Regions from separate parts of the Homo sapiens genome. Here region 2 is linked to region 1. The links come from fine-mapping of genetic effects on gene expression. Tissue or cell type: blood mononuclear cells. Region 1 holds a variant in brackets; the other region holds the start of a gene. All regions are shown on one strand. Distances are between the middles of the regions.

Region 1 (2,919 bases):
TTGTTTTACGTGGCCTATGTGGTAGATAAAAGCGTTGGATATAGAGTCTGGAAACTGAGGTTATAATCTCAATCCTGTTACTTTGTTAATTGTATAATTTTGGGGAAAATCCCTTTAGTAAGCCACAGCTTCCACATATTTCGATGAGTTTTTGAGTGGACTGTACAAGATAATGTGTATCTATATTTTCCCAAAAGATGAATATGCTAATGAAATGTAAGAATATAATTACTATGTAACCCATATGCCCCTCAGGAGTATTTGTGCCCCAAACTCTGTGCTCTCATATATAGATATAGATATAGATATGAGATAATAATAGATTGAGGTACAATAAACATATCAGGTACCAAAAATTACTAAAAAGGAATTCCAAACTTTATGTCTATTTATGAAGAACACTAAAGATATGAAATTTTTAACCCATAGCCACACTTCACTAAAGGTCTTTTCTTTCTCCCTGATGGTCTTACACCTCAAAGCTGAATTGGAGCTCTCACCACCAACTCTCTCCAAAAAACTTTTCTGAAAATCTCAGTTCTCCCTACTTTCTGTGCTTTGTGTCCAACCCACTTCTCTCCGCTGACCAAGCCTGTCTTTTTCTCCCTGTTTTCTCAATTCTGTATCACACGCTTGGGAACTGGGCTGGCAAAGACAGAGGTTTCCATAGAAAATGGAGAGGCAAAAAGGTGGATATATCCCACCTGTTAATATTTATCTGGCTATCTTTAACAATATTTTTCTTTATTTCATGTGGATAGGACCATGTTTTACACTTTTTCTGTTTTCCCTGTAGCACTAATCAGGGTGCTGGGTCTATGGAAGCCACTCAATAAATGCTTGTTAGTTGAATTATAAAACATAAAAATTAAGTTGGAGAAAGTCCCATTAAATGGGCACTCTACCACTTCCTAGAAGTATGAGCTTAAGTTAGTTACATATTGAATTTTATTTTCTTGATCTGTATAATGGGCCTGCTAACTCTCACAGCATAATGTTGTAATTAGCATTAACTGAAATAACACATGAATGTATCTGATACCTATTAAACACCAAATGTTGACTACAAACTTGAAAGGCTATCTTATGGCTATAAACAGATGGAGGCTGACACCTGTAGTTAAGGGAAGTTGTTTGGTATTTAGAAATTGGGTTCCAGTGGGCCTTGATTTTCTTATCTACAAAATGAGAGCATCTACCCAGTGGATTTGGAAGGTCACTGAAATTCTAATGATCTCTATTTCTGAGAAGCAAGATACTGGTGCATCATTCTAATCAAATATTTTCTAGTCCTGAAAACTCTAATACAATTTTGCAAAGAATAATGGGAAACTCACCAGTAACTGAAAAAAGTCTCTCTGCTCATTCGGAATATGCTTTTAATGTGTATCAGTTGGTGCTAACCAGTGAAGATATTTCCACTGGGCTGGCAAAAACAAGAAAGACAAAGTATTGGGAATTGTATTAAGTCAAATTTATTCAATTTAATAAGATACTGCATTTTATTCAGTGATTCTTCCTACTACTTCATTGTCAAATTGTCTTTTCATGATACTAAAGTGATAAAATGTAGTGATTATGTATTAAAATTATCATGTGAGAAAATGAAAAGAGGGAATATAAAAAGTTGGCAACTCTGTCAATTTCCTAATTTTTTACATTGTTGATTAATATTCAGGTTCATAAAATTTGAAAGTTTAGAAATCACTGATTTATAGCATAACAATATTGAGACTAAACTTTCTGAAGAGGAATATCTGATTTTTTTGTTGAAAAATACCAAGTCTTAGAGTTTAACTGGTTTTTCTCAGGATCAAAGCCTTAAAAA[T/A]TTTTTTTAAAAATCCTTTTTCTCCCTCTAAGGAGAAAAAAAGATGTGAAACAAAAGAAGGGCAAGAGTCAGATTTTTTTTCCCTGCTCCTGTGGGATCCTGCTGACTAAAATATTTACAAGTGTGGAAATGGCACAGAGGAAGCCCACCACTTAATGCTGGAGAAGGAAGGTTGGAATGGGCTTGCAGCATTCTAAGCCGCAGTGAGCTGGCTTAGAAGCCTTCTCTGCCCTGACCTAGCTCCAGGCATATAGCTACCAGGCCTGTTTGGGATAAATGATACAAAGAGGATAAAACATCAACAACAGTTTTAATTTTAGAGCTGCTACTTGAATTGCCAAGCCCTCAGCAGAATAACATAGCCAGATTTGGAGGAAACAAAATTTTAACAGATATATTAGAAAAACTGAGGGTGAATAACCCAATAAAATGTAAAAGTCCATGCATAGGGCAGATTTTAATTCCACAGTAAAGGCTTGGTTTTGATAACCTTTTGACTAACTTTTGAAGACATTTATATTGTCAATTAATATACAAACTTTATAATGACTGGAGGCATTTTGTGATTTAAGAACTCAATCATGATTATTATGTATTACGTGTCTATATCAAAACAGCTCATGTGCCCTATAAATACACCTACTATGTACCCACAAAAATTAAAATAAAAAAATTTTAAAAAAGAACTCAGTCATGAAATTGCAAATTTAGAAATCATTTGTTAAGTGTTAAAAACTGCTATGGTTGTTACCATTTGTCTTATTTATCAACAATATTTTATGTATTCTTATAATTTGCTCTCTGGGAAATCTAATGTGAAAAATAATCTTTATTCATATATGTGAACCTTGAGTGTTATGGTGAGTTATCTTAGACCTATTGTTCAGACATATCAACACAGAAAGTAAAGGGAAACAAAGAGGACCTAGGCACCGACTCTTCGACCTCAAGGTATTAATCTGCTATCAGAACAAGGGTATATACTTAGAAATTTGGTTTGCTGAATCTATATCAGACCCCATCGGTAGTCTAGATACTTACTTCATCTAGGCATAGATTCATATATGAGGGAACATGCAAAACCAACTCAT
Region 2 (2,919 bases), 30 kb before region 1:
CATGTAACCCAGAACTTAAAGTATAATAAAAAAAAAATTTAAAAAAGGAAAATAATCTTCTTAGAAAGATATGTAAGAATCCCAGTTTCACTTATTCACTTATAATACATAATTATATATAATGCATATATATAGAATACATAGGCATCTGTATCATAAGCATACAGGTAAATGCTTACGTATTCATACTTACAGCATATGTCCTTACAGCTCTTACGCTTCAGCAAGAATTTTCCAACATTGCTTTTTTAGCAAACTTTTTTTATTATAAAGCAACATATGCACATTACAGGTTATTTAGTGTAACTGACTCTACCAATCTTCTCTCCTCCCCTCCAATACTTCTAAGTCTTTGTTTGTTGTGCTTTACTTTAATCGTTAAACTTTTGGCAAGCGATGTAAATTTGAATTATTCACTTCCTGGGGTACTTTTAATTCTTAAAATAAGACACAATGGTTAAAGCTTAATCATTTATGTTACAGAGGACATTTACTGAACAACAATAATTATTGTGACATTATGGTCTAGTCTCCTAAAAATGACATTGAAGGAAAGGGAACCGGAATATTCCAGACACTACAGTAGGTCTGAAATCTCATATCAAGTCCTTAATAGGTCAAAACTTACAGCCAGTATCAATTACCTAAGGGACTTAACGAAAACGTTTATGAAATCTTCAATTGGATTACAAAAGCAAGCACATCGTTGCACTGTATCTAAGACACTCTACAGGGCAAAATCTCATGAAACAAGTATTTAAGTAGTCTAACTTTTTAATGTTGCTAGTGTGTTCCCTTCTGCCTCAGTTTATAGATTGAGTATGGAAATATTTAAGCAGGTTTGTTTTTGGTTTGTCAGTCACAGGACTTATTTAGACACTTAAATTTATGATTTGGTTACTACAGACATCAAACTCCTTTTGGAATACGGAGTATAGGGTAAGGTCACTCTAAAGCAATGATGAGAGTCCGAAGCAACAGCAACTGGATCTAGCATAAGACTAGTACAATTCGGTCTCTACCACGAAGAGAGATCTCTGTACTTGAGTGCCCAAAGGCAGAAACACACACATGCCATAAGCAATCCACATCTGTGAAGATGAGGGAGGGGTGGACTTCTTGGGATGGGCGGAAACACTTACAACTAGGGAGGAAGCCAGGCTGCGGCGGACCCAGCTGACCAAAGGAACTACAGAAGAGGACGAAGAAAGCGAGGGGGAAAGGGCGAGGGTTATTAACTGAGTTGATGGAATAAGGTAGTGGCTCCAAACTTCACGGCTCATTAGAGCTTGAAAAAAAAAAATCAGACGCCGGGTCGCACAGAAGTAATTAAACCAATCCCTCTGGCGGTGGGGCCCAGGCGTCGGTACTTTTTTTAATTTCCCACTTGAATCCAATGGGAATCCAAGTTTAAGGGCTAGAAGACCAGAGAGCGACAGACAGGGAGGAGGCGCGCCAGCCAGGGGCCGAGGCACATGCGGGCCGGCAACAGCGAAGGCTCCGCCTCTTCCTGTGGCTCGGAGGAGCCGCGGAACCCCCAACGCGCGACTCAGACGGAGACACCCACTCTTTCGGCGCTAGCGGCGGCTGGAAGGGACGAGAGCCTGGCCTAGGAGGAAGGAGGCGGCTCCAGGACCGCATTACCTGATCAGAGCCGCGACCCTCATGCTGGGCGCAGTGCGCGTGCGTGCGGCGAGCGCGGGCGGGAGCCAGGAGGTCGCGCCGCAGCTCGCGTGACGCACCGCGGGGCCTCGCCCGGGTGTTCGCTCCGCCGCCTGTCCGCGGATCGGCGCTGCGAGCCCCGCGGCTGCCTGCGGGACACCTGAGCGCGGAGGGTGCGGCACCTTGGCACCTTGACCCTGTGGCAGGGACATCTCGGCCCAGGAAAGAATGAGGTTTAGGCACGGCCTAACCACCTAAGTGAGGGCACTGAAGCTGCCGGGGGAAGGGCAAGGTCCGCGTTGCAGAGCCCAAGCCCAGTGGCGCAGGATTTGTTTTGGTAAGAGGGGATTTAGCGTCCCAATTGCTGCAAATTGACACAGTTGCGGACGTGCAAGCGCAGAAGAAATTTGTCCTTCCTCACCCCACAGAACAGAAACAACTGTACACTTCTGCTTTTTAACTTACATCTCCTCTGTCCTCCAAACCTGTGTGTCCAGATGTGAAACTCAGATCCCCAGGGGCTGTGGTAATTTTTAAATCTGGGGCTAGCCCCCCCCACCTCTAGGCCCTCTGTGGCTTTGGCTCTTGGTCAAGCTTGTGTATTTGACAAGGCCAGGCCAGGCTCTTCACCAAAGAGCAATGGCCTTGCAGAAAGAAAATCTAGCTTCTAAGTTTATTTGCCAAGTATGTATTGAGTGCCTTTCGTGTACCAGGCACTGTTTTAGACTCTGTGGATACAACCGTAAATAAAACAAAAACCCGGCATTCCGGGCATAGAGCTTAAATGGGGATGGAGAGAACAGACAATACATATCTTAAAGGTAAATAGTCTGTTGAAGAGTGAAAAGTGCTATTGGAAAGGGGCGGGGTGCGGTGGGGGAGAGTCAGGAGAGAGGTGGAGAGGCAAATTGCAGAATTAAATCGTGTCTATGTAGGCCTTATTGGTAAGATGAGAGTTGAGCCAATTTAAATAAGGAGAGTTCGCTATGTGTATGATTGGGGTGTGCTCCAGACAAGAAAAAAAAATCGAAGGCTCTAGGTGCGTTGTGTGTTTGTGGAAGATTAAGGCAGATCCGTGTTGCTGGAGCAGATTGAGCAAAGCAGAGAGTAGTGGAGAGCAGGTTAAGGTGATGGAGGGGAAGGATTATATAGGGTCTTGTAGGTAATTGCAGACTTTTGAAGGGTGTGACTTAAAATTTTAAAAGGATTGCAGTGTTGAGAATCCACCTATTAGGAAGCTGTTACAGTGTTCCAGTA

Evidence for each region.
Region 2: it holds the start of DPH6, and the variant in region 1 is fine-mapped to the expression of DPH6 in blood mononuclear cells (TOPMed, PIP above 0.99).

What each region holds. Positions count from the first base shown.
Region 1 is chr15:35,574,655-35,577,573 of GRCh38, forward strand. The region is part of intron 1 of DPH6-DT (DPH6 divergent transcript); the gene reads left to right. Among named protein-coding and RNA genes, the nearest start is that of DPH6-DT, 30 kb to the left of the region's middle. The variant T/A (reference allele first, on the strand shown) is at 1,829.
Region 2 is chr15:35,544,475-35,547,393 of GRCh38, forward strand. It overlaps DPH6 (diphthamine biosynthesis 6), which reads right to left and starts at 1,691. Exons shown (of 9, transcript NM_080650.4): 1 at 1,645-1,691. The coding sequence starts at 1,667. It overlaps DPH6-DT (DPH6 divergent transcript), which reads left to right and starts at 1,721. Exons shown (of 3, transcript NR_038251.1): 1 at 1,721-1,999. RefSeq lists an enhancer at 692-1,626 and silencers at 1,674-1,813, 2,114-2,163.